6 separate regions of the Homo sapiens genome follow, and all the other regions are reported to be linked to region 4. Evidence: microRNA targets listed by miRTarBase, many of them from high-throughput screens and not tested one by one. Region 4 holds a microRNA gene; each other region holds the end of a gene's coding sequence. Distances are from middle to middle.

Region 1 (5,073 bases), not on the chromosome of region 4:
GCTGTTAGTACTCGGTGGGAAATAATTGCCGAAGATGAAACAAAGGAGGCAGAAAATCAAGGCCTGGATATCTCTTCTCCAGGAATGTCTGGTCACAGGCAGGGCCATGACTCATTAGAACATGATGAGCTTCGGGAGATATTCAATGACCTCAGCAGCAGCAGTGAGGATGAAGATGAGACCCAGCATCAAGATGAAGAAGATATAAACATCATTGACACGGAGGAAGATCTGGAGAGACAGCTACAGGACAAGCTAAATGAATCAGATGAACAGCACCAGGAAAATGAAGGAACCAATCAGCTGGTTATGGGAATTCAGAAGCAGATTGACAACATGAAAGGCAAGCTCCAAGAGACCCAGGACAGGGCAAAACGACAAGAGGATCTCATCATGAAAGTGGAAAATCTGGCTCTCAAGAACAGATTTCAGGCTGTACTGGATGAGCTCAAACAAAAGGAAGACCGAGAAAAGGAGCAACTCAGCTCTTTGCAAGAGGAGCTAGAATCACTCCTAGAGAAGTAAAAAGAACTGATATTTAATTTCAGTCTTCAGACTGGTCAGCATTAGAAAATTCTTGGCTTTATTGTACTGGGTATTAAGACCTTGCTCTTCCTAGTCCTTTTAATGCTGTGTGTTCTGTTAAGTTCTTTCATTTGTTTGTAATTTTGTTTTTCAGCAAATTTATATTGTTTTGCTAGGTGTTCATCCTATAAGAAGCAGGATTGTATAGGCAGAAAAATGATTGTAGGAAAGTTGCAGGATTAGCGGAATGTATGGTTCAACCTTAATTATAGCTTCATTGCAGGACTTTACTGTTTCTCCATTTTCTAGAAGCTGCTGTTGCTGCTTTGTGATGACGTGAGATCAATAAGAAGAACCTAGTCTAGAGACAATGATGCTAGTTTGCATATGTTTTCCTATGCAATAATTGTTTTCCCAGTTATTCAAAGCAGCTTTCTATATGTAGAGATGCAAATTATTAAGTTGTTTCCAATACAATAAATAAAAGCATCTGTTTTTCACTTTATAGTGTATCTTGTTCTTTCATGGTTGGTGGGAGTCAGGTCCTCTTGTGAGGTGGTTTTATGGTGGAGTTTAGTGACTAAGCAATTTGATCCCGTTCTGCAGGTAGAGGCAGTAGGGTTTATGAAAAAAAGGAACACAGCAGGGGTAAAGAAATTGGGAATGGTCATGTTTGCATCATATTAAGATTCCAATTCTATTTGATCTACTTGAAAGCTGGGAAACATTAGATACAGAGCTTTCTTAAAGTACCCTAATTTTTGTAGATGAAGGCCTTTGTGCCTTTTTTAAAAAGCGCTAAATCTACCTGCATAAAATGTTGGAAACAAAGCAGTGGTTATCAAGTGCAGTCCAATGAACCATTCCATTGGTTTGGATTAATATTTCTAATTTTCTTCAGTTGAGTTCCTATAATTAATATTCTGAGAACTGAGGTCATTTATCAATGTCATTTCATCAAAATTGCTCATAAAGGAAGTTGGTACCAAATTTCTCATGCTCTAAAGATAATCTAATGCCTCACAACATAAGCTATTTTTGAAAAATCAGTTACTGATAAAAGAGGCAGAGTTGTATGCAATTTGTTTGACAGGTTGGTTTATGAGAAGCTTGGGTTTGAAAATATTTAAAGTTTTTTTTTTTGAGACGGAGTCTCGCTGTGTCACCCAGGCTGGAGTGCAGTGGCACCATCTCGGCTCACTGCAAGCCCCGCCTCCTGGGTTCACACCATTCTCCTGCCTCAGCCTCCTGAGTAGCTGGGACTACTCAGGTGCCCGCCACCATGCCCAGCTAATTTTTTTGTGTATTTTTAGTAGAGACGGGGTTTCACTGTGTTAGCCAGGATGATCTTGATCTCCTGACCTCATGATCTGCCCGCCTTGGCCTCCCAGAGTGTTGGGATTACAGGCATGAGCCAGCGCGCCCGGCCTCTTTTTTTTTTTTTTTAAGACAAAGTTTTGCTATTGTTGCCCAGGCTGGAGTGCAGTGGTGTGATCTCGGCTCACTGCAGCCTCTGCCTCCTGGGTTCAAGCGATTTTCCTGCCTCAGCCTCCCGAGTAGCCGGGATTACAGGCATGTGCCACCACACCTGGCTAATTTTGTAGTTTTAGTAGAGACAGGGTTTCACCATGTTGGTCAGGCTGGTCTTGAACTCATGACCTCAGGTGATCTGCCCACCCTGGACTCCCAAAGTGGTGGGATTACAGGCCTGAGCTACCACACCCGGCCTAAAGTCCATTTTACTTCTATCTGACAAGAAACAGTATTGAAATGTTAAAAAAAAAAAAAAAGTTACCTAGTCCTCAGGTCTATAATTAAATATGCTGACATTTGCAGACTTCAGAAGGCTAATTTATCTTTTTAAGTGAAACGTTTTTATGAGTAAGTTTTTTTTTTTTTTTTAGATGGAGTCTTGCTGTGTTGCCAGGCTGGAGTGCAGTGGCGTTATCTTGGCTCATTGCAACCTCTGCCTCCTGGGTTCAAGCGATTCTCCTGCCTCAGCCTCTGGAGTAGCTGGGACTACAGGCATGTGCCACCAAGCCCAGCTAATTTTTGTAATTTTAGTAGAGACGGGGTTTCACCATGTTGGCCAGGATGGTCTTGATCTCTTGACCTTGTGATCCACCCGCCTCGGCCTCCCAAAGTGCTGGGATTACAGGCGTGGGCCACCGTGCCTGGCCGTGACTAGGATTTTAGCACAGAATATGTAAGCTTAAGCAAGGTTTCCCTCAATATCTAGGTTTTATATTATTTCTTGAGGTTTCCAAATAATATATATTAAACAACAACAAAAAAACAGTTTAGGATGCTAGGTGACAAAATTTACTGTTTTTGTAATCTAGGTATTTTGCTACACTTAGAAGATTGACACCTGAAAAGCTCCCACCATATCTGGCTTTACAGTGGATCATTTATCAAGTAGTTTATTCTTACCAAGGTCTCAACACCAATGGTGGCAGTTCCATCAATAACAGAAAGGAAAGATTCTGGATACAATAACAAAATAGTATATTGATCTCACTATTCCTGTTTCAGTTATGAGTTCTAAGTGGATTCTAAAATCCACGTTTCCAACCTTGATTCTTCTGTGCTTCAGGTTTAGTTTAGCCAGATGTGTACTAGAAACATACTTGAAAGTATCTCTCAGGCAACTCAAGTGTAAATGTTCAAAATGGCCGGGTGCAGTGGCTCATGCCTATATCTCAACACCTTGGGAGGCTGAGGCAGGTGGATCACCTGAGGTCAGGAGTTCAAGACCAGCCTGGCCAACATGGCAAAACCCATCTCTATTAAAAATACAAAACAAATTAGCTGGGCATGGTGGTGGGCACCTGTAATCCCAGCTACTTGGGAGGGTGAGGTGGGAGAATAGCTTGAACCTGGGAGGTGGATGTTGCAGTGAGCCGAGATCATGCTACTGTGCTCCAGCCTGGGCAACAGAACAAAACTCCATCTCAAAAAAAAAAATACAGGTTCAAAATGGAACTTTTCCTCTTCCTTGAAAATTTGCTTTTCCTTCTGGGTTCCAGTAAAAATAAATGGCACCACCACACATCCCAACTGTGGAAGCTGGACACTAGAGCCATAACTTTACATTTCTCCCTTTCCCTTGCTACTTTTGATTTTACTTAAGAAGTTCTTCACTCACTCTACTTCATCCTTACAGCCACTGTCCTATTTCAAGCCATTATTATTATCTATCAAATGGCAATAGCTTCTTTACCATCCAATTTAGTTTTCACTGCCACCAAACTCATTTTTCTGAGACATATTTGATTGTGTTACTACCATGCTGAAAACCCTTCAGTGACATCTCATTGCTCTCAGGGCTAGGTTTGTATTTCTCAAAAAGATGCACAAGATTATGAGTTCTCCATTTACCTTTTCAGCCTCAGCTCCGCATTCAGTATATGGTCAGTCCACTCTGAACTTACATTTTTTTCAAGGAGCTTACTCATTCTCCCACTCCTGGGCCATAGATCCTTTTAACAAGCAGTTCACTCCACCTAGATGACTTTACCCTTTGTCTGAGTCCTACTTAACCCTCAGGTCTCAACCTAAGTGACTTCAGCAAGGCTTTTCTGACCCTTTTCTCCCTCTAGGTTAAGCAACCCTATTACGGCTTTGCACTTTGTTCTTCCCTCTCTCATTTATTTGACAAACATTTTGTGTGTGTGTGTGCCAAACTACAAGGGGTGTGTGTGTGTGTGTGTGTGTGTGTGCGCGCGCACCAAACTACAAGCTACTGGATATGCAGTGATGAACAAAGCATTTAGTGTCTATAAACTCATGCACTGCACGGTCTACTGGGATGAGTATCTGTTATAACTAAAGTGTAAATTACCTTTGTTCGTATCTCCTGCTTGGCTTTAAATTTACTGAGATATTTTGCTACATTAGTGACTGTAAACTTACTGAAGAATAGTAGAAAGATCAAAATCTTAACATCAAGACATGTCATGCATGGTTCGTATCCTAGCTCAGTTACCTATTAGTTGTGTGACCTTGCACAGGTAGCAATCTGTTTACCTCAATTTTCTCATCTCCAAAGTGGAGGCAATAATACTACCTACCTCATAGGGTTATTGGGCTGTTGGCTGCTGGCTGCTGAATCATATAAATGACTTATTTAGAACAATGCCTGGAACATAGTAAGTAAACAACAGAAGTAAATTTACCACTATTACAACCCATTAAGGTATGGACCATAACAGATACTAAATAATTAAAGAGTGACTGAAATGTTAGAAAAAGTGTTTATAGGGAAACAACTATTCTAAATGTAATTGTTTTCAAATTTAAGAAATTTTAGAGATCAGTTTCAACCAAATTCAGATGGGAAAAAAAATTCTAAATGAAAGCTTATAAATTAGGTTACAGCAGAAACGGTTTGCTTCAAATTTATCTGCAGCATAAACAAATTTACTCAGCTCTTTCCTCCTACAGTTTAGCACTTACAGTTCTCTTTTCTTGGAATAGTCACCAGATATTCTCATGGATAGCTTTTTGTCACTGAAGGCCCAACTCAACCCTTATTTTCTCTGGTAA
Region 2 (5,073 bases), not on the chromosome of region 4:
TGTGAGGATTAAAGAAAACCTAACATACAGCCGATATGCCCCTTAACACCAATATCCCAGTTGTCTTTCTGTGATACCAGGTGAAGGCCAAATTCAGACATTCCTGGCTCCAGAGCCTTTAGTGCATGAACAGATCAGGTATATTACTGAAGAAATAGGTAAAGGCCATTTTGACATCAAACAGAAAAAAAATTGGAGAATATCATATTCTATCTATTTTGATTGGCAGAGGGAATCAGAAAGTATTCCCCTGGACTGCTTTGGAAATGACCCCAGCATTTAGAAAGTCTCTGCTGTGTCCTAATCTCTTTGCTGGAACCTTATCAGTGGTATCTTGGACTCTCCCTTCTGTCACTACATTTCTTTTCCCACCTCCCCTTTGATCTCTTAAGGTATCTTGAAAGACAACTAAGCAGTTTTTGGTGAAAACCTGAACTCTGATTTGGTGAGATTTGTCTATTTGCCAATATAGGTAAAATCACTGAAAAACTGTTTCTGAAGCCTATGTATAATACTTAAGGCCATGTTTCAAGAAAATAATGGAATAAACAGTCAGGAGAGCTGTAGGGTAATATTGCAATTATAGTCTTCTAACCTAAGCGCGTTTATCTGGCAAGGCGGGGCCCTTTTCTGGCTGGGTGATGGTAACTGTCAAACCTGCAGTGAACAGAGATACTAGTCAGGATGCTGAGATGCTGGCAGGGCAGACAGCATGGGGACTGTGCTTTCTGGCCTATTCCATGCGGGCTTCCCAAACAACTTCCTACACTCTTTTTATGCGTGCCTATTTCCTAATTTTTCAGTTTATAAACTAAACCTATTTAGTGCTTGTAAAAATGAGTTGAGGCCGCCAGTGGCTCACGCCTGTAATCCCAGCATTTTGGGAGGCTGAGGTGGGCCGATCACTTGAGGTCAGGAGTTCGAGACCAGCCTGACCAACACGGTGAAACCCCACCTCTACTAAAAGATACAAAAATTAGCTGGGCGTGGTGGCGCATGCGTGTGGTCCCAGCTACTTGGGAGGCTGAGGTGGGAGAATCACTTGAACCTGGGAGGCGGAGGTTGCAGTGAGCAGAGTTCCCACCACTGCACTCCAGCCTGGGCAACAGAGTGAAACTCCACCTAAAAAAAAAAAAAATGAGTTTAGCATAAGAAGGCAGATAAGATGAAGCTATTTTCATTACTGTCTTCTACAATGCTGGAGAGTGGAGAGCAGACTAGTCCCAATCCTTTATTTTGTGCACGGGGAAAGTGAGAACTAGAGATGTTCAACGACTTACAGTCTCCACAGCAAGATCTGGGTCCCTGTACCGCTTAGTGGTGAAGGTCAGGCTAGGACCCATCTATCGCGTCTCCAAGGTCTGTACTCTGGTGTGAGATGATTCAGGCAGCAGGACTGAATGTGAGTTGGGTGCCTTAAAACCCAATACCTGGGATAGAATGTGGTACATACAGAATTCACAGTTTGAAGCAGTTGTTTGTTTTTCCCTACTGAGAAGATTCTGTGATAATAATGGGACTTGGGAGCATTCTGGATTGATTCCAAAGAGCAACAGGGAAATTTTAGTTAGAAAAGGTGGTAAAAATATAGGAGCAAGTGGACTATTTCCTAGGTTTTCATTTTTGTACAAATTTTCATTTTCCTTCTACTGTAGGCGAAATGAGATGCCAGTTGCGTGTTTAGGTGCCAGTGGCCTGCTACACTGATACAACTGAGAGTTTCTGTTTAATATCCTGGCTGTTTCTTAATCTCCAGCTAAATCTGGAGCAAGCTATACAGGCCACACCACATGCTTTGGAAATGATTTGAGCTCTCTTAGAAAATCAAGGTGATGAACAGTCTCAAGGAGGCAGGGAAGAGTGCACAAAAGGTGGGAGAGGTGGTGACCAAGAAGGTTTGTGACCACAGACTGTCCAGGAGATGAGAAAAGATCCCTCTTAGGCCACCAAGGATGCTTGGATTAGGTAACAAGTAGGCCAAGAACGGTCCTTCTGCAGGGGACACGGATGGCAGGTCTCATGAAGTAAGGTTTTGCTGGTTTATCCTATGCTGACCCAACCCAGTGTTCAAATAAAATTCTGAATAACTGTGCTCTGCAGCTTGGGAGATGTTTTATGCATTTAGACCCCAGAGCAGACATTAGAGATATTTTGAAAAGTAAAGGTAGTCTAGTTAGCAAAGTGAACTATCACAGAGGACTAGAGACAGCGATGCCCATGTACATTTCTATTTTTCTTTTGATGGGTTGATGGAGATGCACTCCTGGCTTTTGCAGTTATTTCTGCACATGCTGCATTCAACTAAAAGACCTGCTCAGGTCCCCAAATGTCTTTTTAAAGAAGACAAATCAGGGAGAGATAGGTGGGAAAATGGGTACATGTGGAAGAAGAAAAACATACAGGGTACTTTCTTGGGTTGTTTGACTGCTGTCTTTGTTCTCCAATAAAATGATAGGAGGCAGAAGTGAGAGAAAGTTGTTTCTTTCCCTGTGCGGTTGGTATCTTTCAAATGCATCTTGTCTAGCCTTCAGTGATTTTTCTTCTTCCTGCCACCTTTGCAGTTTTTGGTTCGGGTTTTCCTGATGTTCTAGCCCTGATCACAGACCCCCAGGGAACCACCCTCTTCCCACTGCCCCCAACACCAGTCTTCCCCCCTCTGCAGACCTGAATTACTTCAAGGGGAAGTCGATTAATGGCTTATGTTAATGAAAGAAGCTTTTCACTTAGTCTGAGCTCTGCGAGGGATCATTAGGAAGGGGAGGGGGAGGCAGGGGGGCCTCAGGGGAGTTAGGACATCTCTGAAAATAATGATCAGTGGAAACAAAAGCTTTCCCTTCCTGGAGGCCCCAAGCTATGGCTTGCCTGAAAATGCCTATAATAAGTAACAAGAATAAACCTCTATCGAGGCAGTTAAAAAAGGAATATTGTTTAAATATGGGATTTATTCCTGGCTTCTGGTCATTGGCTGCAAGTCTACAAGGAAGGTTCAGATTTCAAAGAAGAGGTGTAAAAAGGACGAGCCTGGGGGAAGGGGAGCCTGAGAGGCGAGAAGGTCATGTAGCTGACAGCGGGCCCGTGGGAATGTCCTGGCTGACCTCTTTCTTCCAAGCCCAGGCAGATTCCAGAGGTAAAATGAGCAGTCAAACAACCACAGGGAGATGGTCTGTCTGTGAGAGGGGCCCTCAGGAGTGCAGGCGGGCTGTGATTTTACAGGGAGCCAGGAGCGCATTGAGCAGTGGGCCAGCCCTGGGGAAGCTAGAGGGACAAACCCTCTTTGCTGATGCCAGCTGGGAAGCTGAATGTCAACTGCGGGCCAGGTGGGGTGGGGGTCCTGGCGGGCCAGTCCCACAGCAAAGAGGTACTGGAAAGAGGTACCATTTTGTATTTCCAAATGGCTCTGGGTGTGAATTTCTTCCTAATTTGCAATTTACAATTTAGCTATCCACTGGCAATCTCTAGACTAGAGACAGTGTGGGTAAGTGGCAGAATCAGGTAGGCAGACAGTTTTTAAGAAGCAGCTTTCTTTCCCTGAATCTGCTGTCTGGCAAGACCAAGGGCAGCTGAAGGAGTGGGAGTGGTAAATGGAGGCAGAAGCTCTCTCTCGGATCTCTGATTTTCAAACATTCTGAACCACATGCCACAGTCACAGATACTGTTACAGTTCTTTTTCCTCACACTTTTCAGAGGTTTAATTGGGCTTTCTGACAGAAATCTTGCTTATGCAGCACACTCAGATTTTTGCTGCTAATTGCAGAGCTTTTATTTTTCTTGTCAGCGGTCACCTTAATTGTCTTGCCCCAAAGAGCCCCACCCAGCCCTGTTTGGTGCCACATGGTTTTCTTTGAAAGGCTCTGCTATAACAGTGAGAATTACTGGGTGTCCTTTTCTAAGTAAACAGGAAATATCACTCTGTTAGAAAAAAAAAAAAAAAGAATCCCTCTTCTCAGCACAAATGCAATAATGTGCCGACTTATATTTCCTGTTAATGTTAAATTAGGAGCAGGATCTATTTCTTACACCAGCCCAGTCTTCTTAGCTTCTAAACTTTCAATGAGCAGAACCCCAGGGAAGCCTGGCTGCCTAGGGCATTTTAGAAATGCTTCCACTGATTTGCGGGAGGCAGTAGCATCACAGTTTGGAAAGATAACAATGCATTCAAACAAAACAAAACAAACAAACAACCTGTGCAAAATCACAAAGGGGCAAGATGATATGCTTCTAAATTTTAAGTCACAGCACGTGTTTATGTTCTGATACTTGATCACCTTTCTATATAGGAAAACTCTGAAGCCTTGAGTCAGGAAGGAGAATTGACCCAGGGCAGGAGGAAGAAACGCAGGAAGGATGGCTTTTTTTCCCATTACATCAGAACCTGGGTTCGTGTGTCAGGCAGGCACAGCCCAACGAGTCCTCCACACACGAGCACAGTAGAAGCCAGCAGGATGGGGATTGATTTGGTGATGCTGACCAGAGAGCCAAATATTAAGTTTCCCAGGACGGCTGCTGCCTTGCATAGCGCATTTAAGAAGCCAAAGCCTGTTGCCCTGCAAAGGAAAGAGACATGAACAAGGTTGAGAAAATGCCTCCCCATGATTCCAACTTTAGACCAAAAGATCCTAGATTTTCAATGATCTTCCCTCAGATTGTGTTGTATATCAGTGGAGCAAATCAATGCTTGTTAGCAAATCTGGGAGTAGAGAATCCTAGCTGTTGGTATTGTTCCTCCAGCCCTCTGTTGACTTTCTTACCATAGCTTCCATTGACTCTTACTCTGCCTGTAAGTCCCAATGTATTGTGAACAGAAAGAGAGAAAAAATTGTAGGGAGTACGAAACATCTCTAGTGGTTTAACGTTGTTGGAAGGAAGGGTCTTTTTCATTTTTATAGAGATTAGGTCTTGCTCGGTTGCCCAGGCTGGAGTGCAGTGGCATAGTAATAGTTCACTGCAGCCTCAAACTCCTGGGCTCAAGCAATCTTCCCACCTCAGCCTCCTGAGTAGCTAGGACTACAGGTGCACACCACCATACACAGCTAATTTTTATTTTTATTTTTGTAGAGATAGGGTCTTGCTATG
Region 3 (5,071 bases), not on the chromosome of region 4:
CCCCCACCCCTGTTGCCTACTATCCAGGGCCAGCCACTCAACTCTACCTGAACTACACAGCCTACTACCCAAGGTACCCTGCAGCTAAGAGAATATCACAGTCCCACTCCCTGTCCCAATCTGGGGAAAGGTCACGATCCCCTTTCTGGACCAGATAACTCCTCCCTTGAGATGACAAGGGAGTAAGGTGGCAGCTGGCTAATGCCATCTACAAAACAGATCGAAAATGACTCTGTAGAGGCTGGGGCTTCAGGGAGGAACTGAATTAAGCACAAGGCAGAAACAAGGGAGGAGGGAAACAGGTCTCGGTCTAGGCCACAGGTGGCATGCATGACTAAACCTTGTCTCTCCCACCCTAGCCCCCCAGTCTCCCCCACCACTGTGGGCTACCTCACTACACCCACTGCTGCCCTGGCCTCTGCTCCCACCTCAGTGTTGTCCCAGTCAGGAGCCTTGGTCCGCATGCAGGGTGTCCCATACACGGCTGGTATGAAGGATCTGCTCAGCGTCTTCCAGGCCTACCAGGTGAGATTGTGTGGCCGGAGGGCCTGGCGGGTCTGGCTGAGCTCTCTGCCCTAAATCTGTGTCCCTTCTGTAGCTACCCGCTGATGACTACACCAGTCTGATGCCTGTTGGTGACCCACCTCGCACTGTGTTACAAGCCCCCAAGGAATGGGTGTGTTTGTAGGAGAGAAAGCCAGGAGGTAAGAGCCAGCTGATATCCTCGGCGAACATGTCTCTCCTGAGTCCAGAAGACCAGCACCCTCAACCTGGTAGCTTCTTTCTGGCTTGTCAAAGCTCTCAGAAGGTACCTAGAGGAGCCCAAGCCCCAGCTCCATCCTCCACTTATTCTGCCTGTTTCCCCCAAAGACAATGGCTGGACCCTGCATGCAGGGCTGGGGGTGGAATGGGGCTAACCAGCTCCTGATGGCCTGAGCCAGGCATCTTGACTGGCACCTGGAGAGCCCTTAAGTCTGTCCTGGCTGTGGCCCATGCCGACAGATATCGTGGGGCTGACAGGTCCACGGCAGGCTTGCTTTCTTTTATAAAATGGAAGCTCTGGTACCTTCAATGTATGACTCCTGGGAGAATCAAGGGTCCATCTGAGCCTCTGAGTAAAGATCCCAATGTTCTACCTCTCCCTGTCCCTCTTGTAGGGGATAGGGAGGCAGAGAGAGCCAGCCCCTACCCTCAGAGTATCTGGACCTCAGAGACCATGTTGTGCCAGGGGTGGTCCCACCTAAAGATGCTAGCCCCTCTCCAGGTGGGCATAAGGAGTAACAGATGGCAAAACCACAAACTATTTTGATGGACTGTGCTGCAGTATCACCAGAAGACATTAGGGGGCAGTAGGCCCCCACACAAAACCTTCAGGCTTGAATTTTAAAGGGGAGGACTTTCTGCCAACTTTTCTTGTATGCCTTGGGAAAGCCAGTTGCCCTGAACCCAGCAGACACCATGGAATGTCCTTTGCACGCATTAAATGGTACAGAACTGAAGCCTCGGAAGCAATTTGGAACTCGATCTTCTCTTCCTTAAATGAAAAGTTATTGACCAAATGGACTTTTTAAAAGACACAGGACCCTTAACTTTGCCCCAAAGTGAGGGGCTCCACACCAACCCCAGGCGGAGGAACACTCAGACAGATTAAGGATACTGTTGACCTGTCACTGTTTATTATTTCAGCACTAAAACTGAGGAGCCTCAACTGCTGGCTCTTCTTCCCTTTGTATTTGTGTAAGGAGCACTGCACTCCCATAAAAGGTTTTAAAATACAAAATGTACAAGAACACACAATTCCAAGTGCTGTAAACATAACTGAGAACCAGTTCCTTTACTAAACATCCATTTTATAAAACACAAGGTTTCAATTTGAGCCCATCTGAGCCTTAAAGATCCATTCTGAATACCAAAAACAGGGCTTCACAGCCAGGCCCAGAAGAGGTCTGGTGATAATGGCTGGCCCTGGGTGGGGATAGTTTACACCCGGGCAGCAGCACCACACATGAACCCAAAGACATGTTCTTTTTAAAGCTGTTTTCAGCCATGTTTCTCTGTGCATCTCCAGTAAGCAGAAGGCTACCCATTCCATTCCTCAACCCAAGAGCTAGCACAGTTAGAGTAGGAGGGGGTGCGTACTAGCACGTGCCCAGTTGCTCAGTGCTGCTAGTAGAAATTGATTTGCATAGTCCAATGGATGTGTGCTTTAACACCACTATGTTGCACAAAAATTTAAGTCTTTATCTACAAAGCCAAAAAATATTGACTCTTAACACCAAAGCTTTTACAAAGCTGATATAAAACTGCTTACATAGTATACAAAGCTCTATTTTAAAATTTAATGTTTATTTTAAATAGGAAAGCATTTCTAGTGCTACAGGCATCAAGGTATTTAGAAGGCATCAAAATTTGGTGCATAGCAACTCTGGATCATAGAGGCTTTTAATTCTTGAGGGCACAAAGGGTATTGCAAGGGGAACTCTTGCAATAACCTCATGTGAGGCAGCTACACCAGGGGCAAAAGGGTAGGGGCAAGTCTGGCCATTTCTCTGGAATGTCAACCGAGAGGCCAACTTCTTGCCCCTCCAAAGGAAGCTGTGGGCGTCCAACCACAGGCCCAGAAGCAAATCTCACTATCCACATTCTGTGACACAACTCACTTTTCAAGAAAATTTGAAAACACCCAGCTCCAAGAGGGGCCACAGTGATCTGCTGAAGAATAGACCTTTTTCTCTAACTAACTTTAGGGGAGAAATCTAAAATATATTTTGTTTTTTTTAAAGACCATACTTCCTCATCCTGAGTCAACAGCTCCTAACCTACTGACAACAGGTGGTGGGCAATAGGCCAGCTCCCTTTCCCAGACCTGAACTGGCCTTAGTAGAGAGAGTCCTGGCATCAAGGGCCTGCAGTCTCCTGGAATAACAGCATCAGGCCTTCAACCAGCACACTGTCTCACATATAGGCACTCAAAAAATCTGCTTCCTGAATCAATGGAAGTATATTATTTCATTTGAAAGCATACTGCAAACTTCAGAGGCTCTGTAATGGGCCCAGGAACAGGTAAAAAAAATCCCATTAGGGAGAGGGGTAAGGGCAGGTTTTTTTTTTTTTTAAAGTACCCAACTCGGGTACCTCCTTTGGTAGACAGCAGGCTGCAGTTTCTGCTGGGCCCTGCCTTGGACACCAGTCTCACCAGCAGCAGCACCAGGGTGTCTTTGGTGTGGAGGGTCAGGTTATCACTTCTGGATGTGCTCAGAGCCTTCTGGGGAAAAGGCTGGTTTTTAGATCATACAGACAGGACAGGGTAGGCCAGAATCATTTCAGGCTATAAATAGAATGGCAGATAAGCCTTCCATGCCAGTGTGACTCTTAAAACCTTCCCATCTGGAGTCCTGTATTTTCTCTGCCCATGCTGATGTACTGCTCATTTGTGCTTTAGCTCTGCACACAGCCTGGCCTCTAGCTAGAGTTAGAACTGCAAAGCTGCCTAAACCACTGAGACTGGCTTCAAAGGTCACAGAACAGCCAAAGGCAGATGCTTCTGTTTGGAAAAGGTTCTACGACCAGATGACACAAACAGGAAGCGCACTCCACAGCCTACTAGTTTTTATGATGGCAAGAAATGAAAGTGACCAAGCTAGAACCCCACCATTCAGAGTCACCTTAAATGTAGCCATCTTACCCAGGGTCCTGAGGGAAAAAGCAATTTCAACATGGAGCCAGTATGGAGAGATTGCAAGATTACCTAGAAAGTTACCAAAAGGCTATGCTCTGGAATGTCTTTTTATATTCCAACACTTCAATGATGGAATGGTCTCTTCTCATTTTATCTAACAACAGTTTAGTTTTATAAAGAGGTATGAGCTACATTTGGCTTTATTTCCTATAAATCTATGAACGTCTTCAGGACACATGCTGACTTTCTGAGGCATAGGTGTGGGCTTGGGATATTTTTTTCTTTTTCTTTTTTTCTTTTCTTTTTTTTTCTTTTTTTTTTTTTTTTTTTTTTTTTTGCTTCTAGAAGGTCTTATCAAAAGTTCCTATTTTAAAAATTATCATAAAAACTAAAGGGCCCTTCAAATGACCATAAAGCAGTACAAATCACCAATCCTAGCTAAGTAACCAGGTCACCTGCAAAAGCAGCACCTCGGAAACAAGAGAGCCTGCTGCATTCACACTCAAAGCACCCATCATATAAAAGTATCCTAGTTAAATATAAAAAGCAAAGTTCATTTCCCCAAAGCTCAAACAGCCTATGCTGCTCCTGTTCTTTTGCCAAATCTACCCAAGGCCTGAGGTGGAGGAATGCTACTTTCCCCACAAATGGTGGGTCCCACTCCTGGCCCCAGACCTGAAGGCTGCAGAGTTGGAAACCCAAGGTCCAAGGAGAGAAACATGCTGAGAAGTTGGTGGTGGACACAAGGCTGCAGTAAGCACTGTTAGAGCCCATCAGATCTTCCTAAATCCAGGGACTCAGGACTCGGGAGGGGAGCCTGCCTGCTCACCCCTGCTCCTTGGGAAACAGAAATCTGGGACATGTCTCTCCCAATTATCTCGTTCACTGAAAAACAAGAAAAGGGAGAGTGATTAGTGACCTCTGAGTGATTAGCCATATGATGCCCAACGCTGAGCTCTACCTCAGACATTTCCCTTCCCATGGCTTTCTGTAAAGATAAAGGCAGTGTCTGAAGCCTGCTCCTGAGCTGAGTGGCATTAGAGATGGAAACATCGCTCCACAAACTACTCTGGACCTCTTTTTCTCTCTCATTCAGTTCATTTTGGGTTGGGAAGGGGGCTTACCCTCACTCTAAAGGTATGTTTAAATAAGTATTCACCTTACTCTAACTTTTCTTTAATTCATATCTCTTTGAGAAAGTTTTTATTTTCTACAATGCCACCTCCTATGTAAATGGAATGAAAATAAATGCTTTGGTCAGAATAAACCACTGTGATGTGGGGGTGATTTTGCTACTGTATCCTAATACAAGCACTCTTTATTATGTGGGGGCATTTCTGTTGTTTGTGATCTTTTCTGATTGGAGGCTCTAGCTTTTCTGTTAATTTCTCT
Region 4 (5,073 bases):
GAGAAATAAGTGGAAGCTGTTAAGCAAGAAAAATTTTCGATGTCAGGGACGAGCAGATTAAATTAAAAAGACAGGAATGGGCCGGGCACGGTGGCTTATATCTATAATCCCCAGCACTGTGGGAGGCCAAGGAGGCAGATCACTTGAGGTCAGGAGTTGAGACCAGCCCCGCAAACATGGTGAAACCCCGTCTGTGCCAAAAGTACAAAAACTGGCAGGTCATAGTGGTGAGCATTTGTAATCCCAGCTACTAGTGACACGGAGGTGGGAGAATTTCTGGAACCTGGGAGGCAGAGGATGCAATGAGTGGAGATCATCCCACTCTACTCCAGCCTGGGTGACAGAGCCAGGCTCCATCTCAAAAATGAATACATAAATAAATAAAAAGAGGATCACTTGAGCCCAAGAGAGCTAGGTTGGAAGTGCCACCGCACTCCAGCCTGGGCAACGGAGACCCTGTCTTAGAAAAACACAAAACCAAAACATAACCCCGCTATCATCCAAGTCTGATGATAAGCATGCTCTGCAAATGTATTACCAAGATCAGCATCAACTTCAACACTGCTTTTCTCAAACCGTAACCCTCAAAAGGGAAGCGCTTTCTCTTCTTTCTGACAACAGAAAGCGCTTTCCTTTGTAGACTCATAGCTTGAGATCTTCTTGCTCCAGCACTCTGGGTTTCGTGTTGGAATTTTCTTTGACCAGGTTTAAATGGACAGAAAAATAAAGATGCATTTAGTGGCCCTGTTTGCATGTTTTCTGGAATCCAGAATAAAACGCCTGAAAAGGACCATCTCCAGTTCCTTGCTTCAAAGGCTCAGCAGGTTAGCCTTGTTCATCAAGGGACAATCCTCCCGAGTTTTGTTCTCAAACAGAAAAAGCAATGCCTACTAGACATACCTTATACTTAACCAAGAGAATTGGACTGGATTTCCAGAGAACAGCAAATGGATTCTGAGCCAAGTGTTCATTTGAGTTCCAGTGCGGAGACACACAGTCCCATTGGAAACATCCAAAATGTGATCTAAGATGTTGAACTATATACATTGTCGCACACACAAACATCCTCCAGGATAGACCACAGGCTAGGTGGTAAAAGCTCCTCAATAAAATTTGAACAGGAATACACAAGTACCAGTTGGGTGTGGTGGCTCATACCTCTAATCCCAGCACATCAGGAGGCCAAGGCAGGAGATTCACTTGAGCTCAGGAGCTCAAGACCAGCGTGTACAACACGGTGAAACCCTGTCTGTAAAAAAATACAAATGTAGGCCAGGTGTGGTGGTACATGCCTGTAGACACTAATTCAGGAGGCTGGGGTGGGAGGCGAAGGTTGCAGTGAGCCAAGACTGAAACACTGCACTCCAACCTGGGCGACTGAGCCAGATCTTGTTGCAAAAAAAAATTTAAAAGAACACACAAGCAAAAACCACCCCAAAGTGATATCAGTCATCTCTGTGTGTAGAAGAGTATTTTTTGTGTATATAATTATATATATGGCTATATGATGAAATATACATCATATATAATATATATATACACACAAACACACCCATATATATATTTTTTTTTTTGAGACAGAGTCTCTCTCTCTATATAAATATATATGTATATATATATTTTTTTTTTGAGACAGTCTTATTCTCTCGCCCAGGCTGGAGTGTGGTGGCGTGATCTTGGCTCACTGCAACCTCCATCTGTCCGTTCAAGTGATTCTCCTCCCTCAACTTCCCCAGCAGATGGGAATACAGGCGTGCGCCACCATAGCTGGCTAATTTTTTGTATTTTTAGTAGAGACAGGGTTTCACCATGTTGGTCAGGCTGGTCTCAAACTCCTGACCTCAAGTGATCCACTCGCCTCAACCTGCCAAAGTGTTGATATTGCAGGCATGAGCCACCGCTCATGTCGTATACACACAAAAACTGCTCATATACTCATGCGCCTGGCTGTACATCATTTATTTTCCAGACCCTATCTCAAAAAAAAAGAAAGTTCCATATACTGTATGCTCACATAAAGAATTACTCCTACACATAAATGTTTGCTCCACACATAAGAAATGAATGGAGTGACAGAGATCACCATGGCCCCTGTGCAGAGGTGATGCCCAAATTCATGATGGGTCTCATATTGAAAATTAAGATCAAAGGCCGGGTGCAGTGGTTCATGACTGTAAACCCAGCACTTTGGGAGGCCGAGGCAGGTGGATTACGAGGTCAGGAGATGGAGACCATCCTGGTCAACACGGTGAAACCCCATCTCTGCTAAAAATACAAAAATTAGCCGGGCGTGGTGGCATGGGCCTGTACTCCCAGCAACACAGGAGACTGAGATGGGAGAACCACTTCAACCCGGGAAGGGGAGATTGTAGTGAGCAGAGATCGTGACCCTGCAAAGAGGACCACCTGAGCCCAAGAGAGCTAGGTTGGAAGTGCCACTGCTCTCCAGCCTGGGCAAAAGAGACCCCGTCTTAGAAAACAAACAAACCAGGAACAAAAGCCCACCCTCATCCAAGTCTGATGATAAGCACGCTCTGCAAATGTATTGCCGAGATCAGCATGAACGTTAACGTTGCTTTTCTCAAACTGTAATCCTCTAAAAAGATGCACTTTCTTTTCTTTCAGACAACAGAAAGCGCTTCCCTCTAGAGGGTCACAGGCTGAGATCTTCTTGCTCCAGCACCATTGATTTTTTGTTGGAATTTTCCTTGACCAGGTTAAAATGGACACAAAAATAAAGATGCATTTATTGGCCCTGTTTGCATGATTTCTGGAATCCAGAACATAAACCCCTATCAGGGCCATCTCCAGTTCCTTGTTTCAAAAAGCAATGCCGACTATACATACCTTATATTTAACCATGAGAATTGGGCTGGATTCTAGAGAACAGCAATAGATTTTGAGCTAAGTGTTCACTCGAGTTCCAGTACAGTGACACACAGTCCCGACGGGGGCATCCAAAATGGAATCTACGATGTTGAAGAATATGCATTGTCACACACACAAACACCCTCCAGGAGAGACCACAGGCCAGGCTGTAAAAGCTCCTCAATAAAATGAGCAGAAACACACAGGTACAGGTGAGGTGTGGTGGCTCACACCTCTAAACCCAGCCCTTTAGGAGGCTGAGGCAGGAGTATCACTTGAGTTCAAGAGTTTGAGACCAGCCTGGGCAACATGGTGATACCTCATGTGTAGAGAAAACAGAAAAGTTAGCCGGGCGTGGTGGTGTGCGCCTGTAGACAGCTACTCAAGAGGCTGAAGTGGCAGGTGGAGGTTGCAATAAGCTGAGATGGCACCACTGCACTCTAGCCTGGGTGACAGACCCAGACCTTATCTAAAAAAAAAACAAAAACATACACACACAAACAAAAAATTACCCAAAGTGATACGAGAGTATTCTCTGTGTATAGAAGAGTGTTTTGTGTGTATATGACTATGTTACATGTATAATAAGAATATGATAAAATATATATTTTTGAGACCGTACATCAATAAAAATTAAGTTCCATATACTATGTGCTCACATGAAAAATAATTCCTACACATATGTGCTTGCATTGGCAGCACACATTAAAAAAAATTGGAGGCTAGGCTGGGTGGCTTACACCTATAATCTCAGCATTTTGGGAGGCTGAGGCAGGCGGATCACCTGAGGTCAGGAGTTGGAGACTAACCTGGCCATCATGATGAAACTGCATCTCTGCTAAAAATGCAAATATTAGCCAGGCGTCGTGGCACGTGCACCTGTAATCCCATCTACTTGGGAGGAGAGGTTGCAGTGAGCAGATAACATGCCACTGCGCTCAAGCCTGGGCCAGAGACAGAGACTCTGTTTCAAGAAAAAAAAAAAAAGCAAGCACGGGACCACTTGAGCCCAAGAGATCTAGGTTGGAAGCGCCACCGCACTCCAGCCTGGGCAACAGAGACCCCATGATGCAAAACAACTAAACAAAAACAGAACCCCAACATCATGCAAGTCTGATGATAAGCACGCTCTGCAAATGTGTTACCAAGATCAGCATCAACTTCAACGTGGTTTTTCTCAAACAGTAACGCTCCAAAAGAAGGCACTCTGCTTTCAGACAACAGAAAGTGCTTTCTTTTGGAGAATGACTGCATGAGATCTTCTCGCTCCAAAAGTCTGGGTTTTTTGACGGAATTTTCCTCACCTGGTTAAAATGGACACAAAAATAAAGATACATTTATTGACTCTCTCTGCATGTTTTCTGGAATCCAGAATATAAACCCCTAAAAGGACCATCTCCAGTTCCTTGCTTCAAAGGCTCAGCAGGTTAGCCTTGTTCATCAAGAGACAATCCTCCTGAGTTCTGTCCCCAAAGAGAAAAAGCAATGCCTACCACACATACCTTATATTTAACCATGAGAATTGGGCTGGATTTCTAGAGAACAGCAATGGATTTGAAGCCAAGTGTTCACATAAGTCCCAGTACAGGGACACACAGTCCCCATGCAAGCATCCAAAATGGAATCTAAGATGATGTTTAAGAATATACACTGTTGTACACACATTCTCCAGGATAGAACACAGGCTAGGCCATAAAAGCTCCTCAATAAATTTTTTTTTTTTTTTTGAAACAAGTCTCACTTTGTTGCCCAGGCTGTAGTGCAGGGCCGTGATCTCAGCTCACTGCAAGCTCTGCCTCCAGGTTTCCAGCAATTCTCCTGTCTCAGCCTCTGGGGTACCTGGGATTACAGGCACGTGCCACGATGCCCACCTAATTTTGCATTTTTAAAATTTTTTTTTCTTTTTTTTCTTTTCTTTTTGTGGAGAACAGGGTCTCACTGTATTGCCCAGGCAGGTCTCAAACTCCTGGGCTCAAGCTATCCTCCTGCCTCTGCCTCCCTAAGAGCTGGGATTACAGGCGTGAGCCACCGCGCCCGGCTAATTTTTGTACTTTTAGTAGAAATGAGGTTTCACCATCTTGGCCAGGCTGGTCTCAAACTCCTGACTCCAGGTGATTAGCCTGCTTTGGTCTCCAAGAGTGCTGAGACGACATGCCTGAGCTACCGTGCCTGGCCTGCAGACAGCTATTCCAGAGGCTGCGGTGG
Region 5 (5,073 bases), not on the chromosome of region 4:
GCACAGCAAAAGAAACTATCATCAGAGTGAACAGGCAACCTACAGAATGGGAGAAAATTTTTGCAATCTACTCATCTGACAATGGGCTAATATCCAGAATCTACGAAGAACTTAAACTAATTTACAAGAAAAAAAAAAAACATCAAAAAGTGGGTGAAGGATATGAACAGACATTTCTCAAAAGAAGACATTTATGCGGCCAAAAAACATATGAGAAAAAGTTCATCATCACTGGTCACTAGAGAAACGCAAATCAAAACCACAATGAGATACCATCTCATGCCAGTTACAATGGCGATCATTAAAAAGTCAGGAAATGCCGGGCATGGTGGTTCATGCCTGTAATCCCAGCACTTTGGGAGGTCCAGGCAGGTGGATCATAAAGTCAGGAGTTCGAAAGCAGCCTGGCCAATATGGTGAAACCCCGTCTCTACTAAAAATATAAAAATTAGCTAGGCATGGTGGCGGGTGCCTGTAGTGCCAGCTACTCAGGAGGCTGAAGCAGGAGAATCGCTTGGACCCCGGGAGATGGAGGTTGCAGTGAGCTGAGATCACACCACTGCACTCCAGCCTGGGTGACAGCAGAGTGAGACTCCATCTAAAAAAAAAAAAAAAAAAAGGAAACATCACAAGCTGGAGAGCATGTGGAGAAATAGGAATGCTTTTACACTGTTGGTGAGAGTGTAAATTAGTTCAATCATTGTAGAAGACAGTGTGGCAATTCCTCAAGGATCTAGAACCAGAAATACGACTTGACCCAGTAATCCCATTACTGGGTATATACCCAAAGGATTATAAATCATGCTACTATAAAGACACATGCACATGTATGATGTATGTTTATTGGGGCACTATTCACAATAGCAAAGACTTGGAACCAACCAAATGCCCATCAATGATAGACTGGATAAAGAAAATGTGGCACATATACACCATGGAATACTATGCAGCCATAAAAAAGGATGAGTTCATGTCCTTTGCAAAGCCATGGATGAAGCTGGAAACCATCATTCTCAGCAAACTAACACAGGAACAGAAAACCAGACACTGCATGTTCTCACTTATAAGTGGGAGTTGAACAATGAGAACACATGGACACAGGGAAGGGAACATCACACACTGGGGCCTGTCACGGGGTAGGGGGGCTAGGAGAGGCACAGCATTAGTAGAAATACCTAATGTAGATGATGGGTTGATGGGTGCAGCAAACCACTATGGCACATGTATACCTATGTAACAAACCTGAACGTTCTACACATGTATCCCAGAACTTAAAGTATAATAAAAAAAAATTTAAAAAAGACTCTGTCTCAAAAATAAATAAATAAATAAATAGAGCCTTATAACTCACTGTAGCCTTAAGCAGTTCTCCCACCTCAGCCTCCTGAGTAGCTGGAACTACAGGTGCCTATTCACTCTTACTGCTATATGATAATCCATTATATGAATATACCACAATATATTTCTCTTTTCTCCTGTTAATGAACATTTGGATCGTTTGTAGTTTGGAGCTATTATGAATACTGCTGAGATGAACATTTTAGTACCATATTTTGGTGAACATATGCATGCATTTCTGTTTTATGGGTGTATAGCTAGGAGTAGAGTGTATACCATTGAGTGTATACCTAGGATTGGAATTTTTGGATCATAAGGTAGGTATACGTCCTAATAAATATTGCTAAACATTAAAAAAAAAAGAAAAGATCCTTACTAAACGAAAGCAATAAGACTTTGTCTTGTATGGTGGATAAACTGAGAAATTAGAATACATACTTGGAATTTGGATATTAAAGAATAAAATAATTTAGCTGGCTCTGATAATGGTGGTTATGTTAAAAGGACATATTCTATTCAATTAGAGGTGCACACTGAAATATTTATGGGTATGAAGACACAATATCTGGGATTTGCTTTCAAGTAGTCCAGGAAAAACAAAAAAGAGGATGTGATAGATGAAACAAATTGGGCAGAACGTTGGTAATTATTGAAACTGGAGGATGGCTATAGAGTGGCTCTTTATAGTACTTGTCACTTTCTTATTAAAGTTTTCTACTTTTAAAAAGTTAAAAAAAAATTATAAATATATTTTTTAAAGTGTGATTCTAAAATCTGGCTGATCATCCAGATCACCCGAGGAGCTTAAAAAAGTAGATTCTGGGAGCTGCGCAGTCCTGCTGAATCAGTCGTCTGTGAGTCCATTTGTACTGGATGGGAGGTGGGGATGAAGGCTTGCGCATGGAGGAATGTGTTATTTTTTAATTTCCTGGTTCTGGCAGCCAGCACAGCCACGCTGCCTCCTCTGCTTTGTCTGACCCAGGAGATCTTACATCAGTCTTCCTTCCTGCCTGCCTACTTCTCTCTTTCCTGTCTTTCCCTCCTCCTCCCTCTTGTTTTCTCTTTCTTCACTTTATAAAAGTTTAGGGCAGGAAGCTTAAAAGGGCCACAGGGTCCTAGCATCCCTTTCCTCTTCCCATCAGAGGAAGAGTGTCTTCATTGTCAAGCGGGGGCTTGTGCTTGAGGACTGGGCCTGGACCTCATACAGTTATTATTTATGAAAAGCTGCCTTGCTACCATGGATGAGAGATGTGTGCATTGCTCAGGTGCACCTCAAAATAAAGCTGCTTAGGAAGCACAGTCTTAATATCCAAGCCTTTCTTTTTCTTTCAGCATTCATCAATTGAAAACATCACAATCTGTTCTTAAATAATTTATTTTTTAATGTTGACTCTTGTGAAAAGTTACATTTATTTAGAAAAACTTGAAGAAATCCAACAAAGAATAGGTGGCTTTCTATTAGGGACAATTAAATGTGCAAATTTCAAATACTTTTTATAATAAGTATAAATAATTACTTTTTTTCACATTAAGAATGGAAATAATGATCAACACAAAATATTAAGATATCAACTTTAAGAGAATTAGATGAAAACACTGAAGTTTATTTGGTATCTTTGGAAAGAAATTATAAAGATTCGTCTGGGAAAAACTTAGGGGGCTCTAAGGGGAAAGTGTGCCTAATAGTATGAGTAAAGGCTGTGTAGAGTTATGGATCACAAATATTTTCAGGCCATAAGTACAGACCCCCAAAATGGCAGCCTTTATCTCTGGGGAAAATGCATTTCCCCTCCTTTTTTTTTTTTCTTCTAGAGCAAATATGACAGCAACCACAAAGCACACAGAGAAACTGTAAGCCAGCAACAGAAAGAGATTTCCTCATACTCATGGTTACTGGCTTTTGCTGTCCCAATACCAGGGTACCATGGGATGCAGGGGACTTCCCAGCCCCCCCAGGACACAGTGTTAACAGAAAATAAAACCATCACAAAAGGCCACATCTTTCCCTGTGACCATTGCCAGTCTCATCCCTGCTCCTTCCCTATCTCATCTCCAAGGAGGTAGGACACTCAGAGGCATTAACAGAACACAGAGTATAGTTTTTTATTACATAGCTGGAGTTTCATAAGGAGAAGCACGAAACATCGATGAATATGTATGTATACCTTGGATGCAATTCCTTCTTTCCTGGGGAGGCAAGCAAAAGTGTATCAAAGAGGCCAATTTACTCCCTGTGGTCAGGAACTTGCCCACAGCCTGACTCAAAGCAAGGATGTTCTCTCAGGAGAACACTGTGGCATTTTCCCCAGAGCTGAAGAAATATCTTCACTTAAATAATCTTGAAGTTTGTAATAAAATAAATAAAGTGAATTACACAAAAAGGACTAGAGCTCCCTTTAAAAAGGCAGCTGGTTGAGTTTATGCAAGCAGTGTATACACAAGCTCATGCCCCAACAACAACCAGAAAACAGGTTATTATTATTTAGCCTTCCTATTGTACTTCTAGGGCAGCATTTCAATATAATTTAAAAAAATCCCTCATACATAATGTAAGGGTATATTATATATGTACACACTTTTACTCCTCAGTTCAAGCTAACTTCTTTAGAAGTAAAGACAGTAATAACCCAAAGAGTTACACGTCTTCCCAGTAAAATATTCTAATTTTTTAAAAGGTGCATATTATAAAGAGCAGCTTGTTTTTCTGTCAATGTGAACATGTTCAGTCTCAGCAGCCTCAGAATCACAGTCCATGGATGGTTCTGCATTTCTGCCGGGTCCTCAGGAAAGGAACCGGGCAGGTAGGGAAAAACCATGAACTACAAACACTCTCTGAATACGTCCATTTTCCCTGAGCTTCCTTGAGCTTCTTGCAGAGGGCCTCGCTGCCATGAGGATCTGGCTTCACATCTCTGAGAGATGCTGGGGGAGGGGAGGTGGAATGGCTCTGGCTTCTCCAACCCACGCGACTTGTGTGTCTTTTCCCTTTCTCAGCCAAGACGATGAAGCAGTCCTGATGCGCAGGGTGCAGGGGCCTCGGCCAGTCCCCGCACACCTTCCAAGTCCAAAGAAGTTCCTGGCCTCCTGCTTGGTAGGAGAGGAGGAACCTTGGGCTGAATCTGACATCATCCCTTGCCAGTTACAAGCTTTGCTTTCTAAGGCCACCTGGGAACACTCCCGGGTTACCAAACCTGAGCATCGTGGGCACCACGAAGAGCTTATCTTTCCTCTCCTGCTCAGACACCCTTAAGCCCACTGTTGCAGTGGCAGCTGAGGGGTTCAGAGGATAGCACCATGATGACTGACAGCTCGAGGCCCCACTTCTTGCAGGAGGTGACCCACCTGTTTCCGGTTAGCCATACATCTGCTTGAACTGAAAGCATTCGTTGCAGTAGCCGTTGCACTTGGCATTGCCAAAATGATCACAGGCGGGGGCCCGGCAACGCTGCTTGGGGGGGTCTTCGGGGGCAGGCTCACCCCGGTGGGCCCCAGGGCCCATCCTCTGGTTGGGATGCTGACACTCCATGCAGAGCTCCTCGCTGCGGCAGGCCAGGATGTTCTTGCAGGAGGCCCGGGCGCACTTGGGCCTTGAGGTGCTTTGTGTGGTTCGAGGCACATCTCTGCGCTGGCTCGATCTCTGAGTGGAAAGAACAGGCAGATCATTAAAAAGTCAGGAAACTATTGCTCACATTTCTTAGGGAGAGCACAATGAAATCTCATTGGAGAGTGTGGAGT
Region 6 (5,073 bases), 34 Mb from region 4:
TGTGTGTGTGTGTGTGTGTATGTGTATGAGAGAGAGATGGAGTTGTGCTCTGTTGCCCAGGCTGGAGTGCAGTGGCACAATCTCGGCTCACTGCAACCTCCCGGGTTCAAGCGATCCTTGTGTCTCAGCCTCCTGAGTAGCTGGGATCACAGGTGTCCACTGCCATGCCCGGCTAATTTTTGTATTTTTAGTAGAGACAGGGTTTCACTATGTTGGCCAGGCTGATCTCGAACTCCTGAGTTCATGTGATCAGCTCACCTCAGCCTCCCAAAGTGCTGGGATTACAGGCGTGAGCCACCACATCCGGCCTGGTTTTGTTTTTTTTGAAACAGAGCCTCACTCTGTTGCCCAGGCTGGAGTGCGAGGCTCAATCACAGCTCACTATAGCCTCATCCTCCCAGTCTCAAGGGATCCTCCAAACTCAGCCTCCCAAATAGCTGGGACTACAAGCATGTGCCGCCACGCCTGGCTAATTTTTTTATTTTTGTAGAGATAGGTTCTCGCTATGTTGCCCAAGCTGGTCTCAAACTCCTGGCTTCAAGAGATCCTCCCACTTTGGCCTCCCAAAGTGCTGGGATGACAGGGATGAGCCCTCGCGTCTGGCCTCTTTCCTCTACTTTCTCTCCCAAGGACACCCGCTGCATCAGGCCACCTGCCTCTCACCACCTTTTGTCCCTTCCCTGTCCTCCCTCACTTCCCTGCAGCCAGACGTTCACATCGGATGCGGCGACACCACCACCACCACCAACACCACCACCAGCATCACCACCACAAATCCCGCAAGGAGCGCAGAAAACACAAGAAACACCCAACGGAGGACTGGGAGAAGGACGAAGGGAATTTCTGCTGAAGAACCAGAAAAAAGAAAGCACAACACCTTTCCCATGCCTCCTCTGGAGCCTTCGCCTGGGGAGACAGAACCCAGAGAGAAACAAGAGAGTCCAGAAGTCCCTGAACCCCAAACCACATCCCCCACACACATAATCCTTTGTACAAAGCTCCTCTTTTCCCTTTTTTTACATACACAAGATCCTCTTGGCAGGTGGAGCCAGGTGTCTGAAAAGTTCATTCTCGTCTGGCTGAACTCTGGGAGTGTGTCCCAGCTGAGGGAAGCACAAGTAGCAAAGCTCATTGGTCTGGTCTCTTGTTTGCCAGGCTGATTGAAGCAGGCCTTGATGAGGGTGCATGAGTGTATGTTTGCATTCACATGAAGGAATTGCTTTTCACACCAGAAATTCAGACTTAGTCAATGTTGGCTGAATTCCTAAATCCAGGAAGAAGCCTGGACGTAGGGTCATTAGCTTTGGGAATAGAAGGCTACACAGAAGCACACTGTTTTTGAACTTGACAACAGCTCTCCCTTTACCCTGGACTTCAGCCCAAGTTCCGTCTTTGGTCTTGGTGGATAAACACACAGTGTGGAGATCCCACGTACTGCATTTTAGGGATGTTTTTAGGACAACCTCCCTCCATGCCTTCAGAGTTAGGAGTGAGAATGATCAAAGCAATATGTAGGTGATGGAGGGAGAGTGTATTGCTAACCCTTCCAGGTCTAGTCCAGCGCTGAGATTTGGTGGTTCTGCATGTGTGATGAATCTCTTTCACACAAATAGACGAGAGGATATTTAGGGCTAGATGAGCCCAGATTTCTTCCCCCTCCATCTCTCAGGGAGACAAAGAACCTCCTTCCTGGACCAAGGAGGTGCTGCCAAGTTTTCTAGCCCAGTGCACATACCCAGTCCTTAAGCAGACATTGGTAGTGCCCCTGCCCTGGGTCCCACTCCTGCCCCACCCCACCCTTGTCCCTGGCCATTGCCTGGTGGTCTAGAAACACTTAAAACTTGAAGTAGTGACACCTACCTGCGGTCATATTGTAGAGAGATGCTCAGTGTTAAAACTGAAACACACAAACACACACACACACACATTTTTCTCTTGTAGATTTTAATTTTTTAAGTGGGAAAGAACTCACCTTGCCTTCCTCCCCCAAATGTGCAACCTGTAAAAGGTCTCTCCACACCAGGGGCCAGGATCCAGTTCCCTCATCTCTGGCAGGAAAGATCCACAGCTTTTCCTCCATGTCTGTTACTCACTTTCAGCAGTCCGGGTAAAATCTGTGGATCAGGGTTAAAAAAGCACCGTGGAGAATGGCCCTCTTCAGGAAAGAAAAATAAGCAAATGAATGGTCCACCTAGGGGTTCAGTAAAGAAAGAAATGTGTTAACTGAGCCTGAATCCCTTCTGGGAAGTAATAATGACCATTGACAACTAAGAAGTAGACACCATGCTAAAGACTTACATACAATCTCCTTGAATCTTCTCAATAGCCCATTGACTTAGAAACTGTTACTTTCCCATTTTACACACAGTGAAACTGAGGCTCAGATATAAAGGAAAGGTACTGGCTTGAAGTCACAACCACGACAGGAGTAAGGATTTGGAATAAGGATTTGGTCCTGTTTTCTGGACCAAATCCTTACTCTGGCTCTGCTTACACTTTCTCTCCATCACCAAATCCTTACTCCAAATCCAGAAGTCAGAGCCAACTCCCATCTTGGTTCTGACCCAAATCCTGCTCTGGACTCTGGAGAGGAGATTGAAATATAATTGCACCCTCATACACATTTAGGAAATGGTTAAGAAGTGTAAACTGAACCCTTATCCTTGTCTTCAATCTTCCTCCCTGTAGACATCTATCTTATTATGGTTATTATTCAGAAAACCCAGGGATACAGGTTTGTCTTCTTACTTTGATAACTCTTCTTAGTTTAAAATAATAATAATAACACATCTTTGGTCATCTATGTCACACAAAAATTTTCCTTTGTTTGCGGGGGGCTGGGGATGCAGTGTTTTTTGGGGGGTCTTGGTTTATGCTCCCTGCCCTTGAGCCCCTCAGCCGTTTGCCCTGCCCCCACCTCGGCTCCATGGTGGGAGGGGGCTCTGGTCTTTTCTAAAGTGGGCGGTTTGTCTTTTGATCTTTCCCTTTTGGATGTGCGTGTGTGTCTGCGTGTGCCATGTGCGTGGCACGCATATGAGTGTGTGTGCGTGTGAACGGCTTTGGGTCCTGCTGGTTTTGCTGTGAGCTGCAGTGTTCTGTGGGTCTGTGGTATCTGACACTGTGGACATTAATGTACTTCTTGGACATTTTAATAAATTTTTTAACAGTTCAACCTGCCCGTCACCACCTGATACCTTCATTCATTCATTCATTCAGCAAGTATTTACCCGAGCAGCTATTGTGATCCATGTACTGTACTGGGTGCTGGGGAGATAGTGGTGAACAGAGAAGGTTTGGTCTTTAGTGGGTAGTCACAGAAGGCTTCCCCGAGGAGGGGAATGGAATCTAAAGAAGAAGTCGCATTAACTAGATGAGGAGAGAAAGAAAGGAAAGGCATTCCACTCAGAGGAAAGAGTGAAAGCAAAAGTCTTCTTGCAGAAGGGAGCGGGCGCAGTGGCTCATGCCTGTAATCCCAGCACCTTGGGAGGCCGAGCCAGGCGGATCACAGGGTCAAGAGATCGAGACCATCTTGGCCAACATGGTGAAACCCTGTCTCTATTAAAACTACAAAAATCAGCTGGGCATGGTGGCATGCGCCTGTAGCCCCAGCTACTCAGGAAGCTGAGGCAGGAGAATCACTTGAACCCAGGAGGCAGAAGTTGCAGTGAGCTGAGATGGTGCCACTGCACTCTAGCCTGGCAACAGAGAGAGACTCCGTCTCAGAAAAAAAAAAAAAAAAAAAAAAAGAAGGGCTCACTCGAATCAGTAGGAAAAAGACAAATCCATTAGCCAAGCAGGCAAAAGATATAAAAAAAAGTTTACAAAAAAGGAAATAGCAGCTCTAAAACTACAATATAGACTCAATAAAATAATACACATTTTGCAAGAACATCTAGATTCACAAGGAAGGACATAAAAATATAAGAGAATAAACAAATGTATCAAAAGATGGCCAGCATGGTGGTTCACGCCTGTAATCCCAGCAATTTGGGAGGCTAAGGTGAGCAGATCACATGAGGCCAGGAGTTCAAGACCAGCCTGGCTAACATGGTGAAACCCTGTCTCTACTAAACATACAAAAATTAGCCAGGTGCGGTGATGCGCACCTGTAATCCCAGCTACTCAGGAGGCTGAAACAGGAGAATCGCTTGAACCCAGGATGTGGAGGTTGCAGTGAGCCAAGATCACACCATTGCACTCCAGCCTGGGTGATAGAGTGATCTCCATCTAAAAAAAAAAAAAAGATCCTTGCATATATCAAAGATGATAATGTGCTTGAACTGTGAATGATTTACGATTTGCTCGACCGCCTGCACCTAAGGTCAAAGTTGGTGGTGGTGGTTGGAGATGTTCAACCTCACAAATAGAAACGCAAGCAACAACCACATTGAGATACCATTTTTCACCTATCAGATTGACAAAAATAAAAAGTGACAAGACATGAGGCTAATGAGGATGTGTGGAACAGGTGAGTACTTTTTTTTTTTTTTGAGAAGGGGTCTTGCTCTGTTGCCCAGGCTGGAGTGCAGTGGTGCAGTCTCACCTCACTGTAACCTCCGCCTCCTCAGTTCAAGTGATTCTCCTGCCTCAACCTCCCGAGTAGTTGGGATTACAGGTGCCTGCCACCATGCTGGGCTAATTTTTGTATTTTTGGTAGAGATGGGGTTTTGCCATGTTGGCCAGGCTAGTCTCGAACTCCTGACCTCAGGTGATCCACCCGCCTCGGCCTCCCAAACTGTTGGGATTACAGCCGTGAGCCACCATGCCCAGCCAGGTGAGTATATCTATTACCTGTGGAGTATAAATTGGCCCCATCTCTAAGAAAATGTGGAAATCACTATGAAAACGGCGAGTTTTAGTCTGGGCACAGTGGCTCATGCCTGTAATACTAGCACCGTAGGAGGCCAAGGCAGGTGGATCACCTGAGGTCAGGAGTTCGAGACCAACCTGGCCAACATGGTAAAACCCCATCTCTGCTAAAAACAGAAAAATTAGTTGGGCGCAGTGGCAGGCGCCTGTAATCCCAGCTACTTTAGAGGCTTAGGCAGAAGAATCGCTCGAACCCGGGAAGCA

What was found. Region 4 holds the annotated microRNA hsa-miR-519a-5p (CUCUAGAGGGAAGCGCUUUCUG, at 2,630-2,651, opposite strand). A microRNA usually pairs through its seed, bases 2 to 8, with sites in the 3' UTR of a target mRNA and lowers its output. Matches are read on the target gene's strand: a 7mer-m8 pairs with bases 2 to 8, a 7mer-A1 pairs with bases 2 to 7 and ends in A, and an 8mer does both.
Region 1: miRTarBase lists TAF7 as a target of hsa-miR-519a-5p. Seed matches in the 3' UTR shown: 7mer-A1 at 830-836.
Region 2: miRTarBase lists SV2C as a target of hsa-miR-519a-5p. The part of its 3' UTR that is shown has no 7-base or 8-base seed match.
Region 3: miRTarBase lists NFATC3 as a target of hsa-miR-519a-5p. Seed matches in the 3' UTR shown: 7mer-A1 at 4,019-4,025.
Region 5: miRTarBase lists TNFAIP3 as a target of hsa-miR-519a-5p. Seed matches in the 3' UTR shown: 8mer at 3,145-3,152.
Region 6: miRTarBase lists NCAN as a target of hsa-miR-519a-5p. Seed matches in the 3' UTR shown: 7mer-A1 at 1,824-1,830.

Annotation. Positions count from the first base shown.
Region 1 is chr5:141,314,447-141,319,519 of GRCh38, reverse strand. TAF7 (TATA-box binding protein associated factor 7) reads left to right here. Exons shown (of 1, transcript NM_005642.3): 1 at 1-1,030. The coding sequence ends at 525. Among named protein-coding and RNA genes, the nearest start is that of TAF7, 3.8 kb to the left of the region's middle.
Region 2 is chr5:76,324,835-76,329,907 of GRCh38, reverse strand. SV2C (synaptic vesicle glycoprotein 2C) reads right to left here. Exons shown (of 13, transcript NM_014979.4): 13 at 1-4,544. The coding sequence ends at 4,361. Among named protein-coding and RNA genes, the nearest start is that of SV2C-AS2, 16 kb to the right of the region's middle. RefSeq lists an enhancer at 3,977-4,476.
Region 3 is chr16:68,225,843-68,230,913 of GRCh38, reverse strand. It overlaps NFATC3 (nuclear factor of activated T cells 3), which reads right to left. Exons shown (of 10, transcript NM_173165.3): 10 at 1,655-4,564. The coding sequence ends at 4,443. ESRP2 (epithelial splicing regulatory protein 2) reads left to right here. Exons shown (of 15, transcript NM_024939.3): 13 at 1-73; 14 at 360-525; 15 at 599-1,881. The coding sequence ends at 688. Among named protein-coding and RNA genes, the nearest start is that of MIR6773, 5.1 kb to the left of the region's middle. RefSeq lists an enhancer at 3,428-3,477.
Region 4 is chr19:53,684,062-53,689,134 of GRCh38, reverse strand. It overlaps MIR519C (microRNA 519c), which reads right to left and starts at 2,666; the gene lies at 2,580-2,666. MIR515-2 (microRNA 515-2) reads right to left here and starts at 4,126; the gene lies at 4,044-4,126. It overlaps MIR1283-1 (microRNA 1283-1), which reads right to left and starts at 654; the gene lies at 568-654. All of the region lies in intron 2 of LOC107985342 (a long non-coding RNA gene), which reads right to left.
Region 5 is chr6:137,880,937-137,886,009 of GRCh38, reverse strand. It overlaps TNFAIP3 (TNF alpha induced protein 3), which reads right to left. Exons shown (of 9, transcript NM_001270508.2): 9 at 2,698-4,975. The coding sequence ends at 4,691. Among named protein-coding and RNA genes, the nearest start is that of WAKMAR2, 15 kb to the right of the region's middle.
Region 6 is chr19:19,249,062-19,254,134 of GRCh38, forward strand. NCAN (neurocan) reads left to right here. Exons shown (of 15, transcript NM_004386.3): 15 at 705-3,172. The coding sequence ends at 850. Among named protein-coding and RNA genes, the nearest start is that of HAPLN4, 11 kb to the right of the region's middle.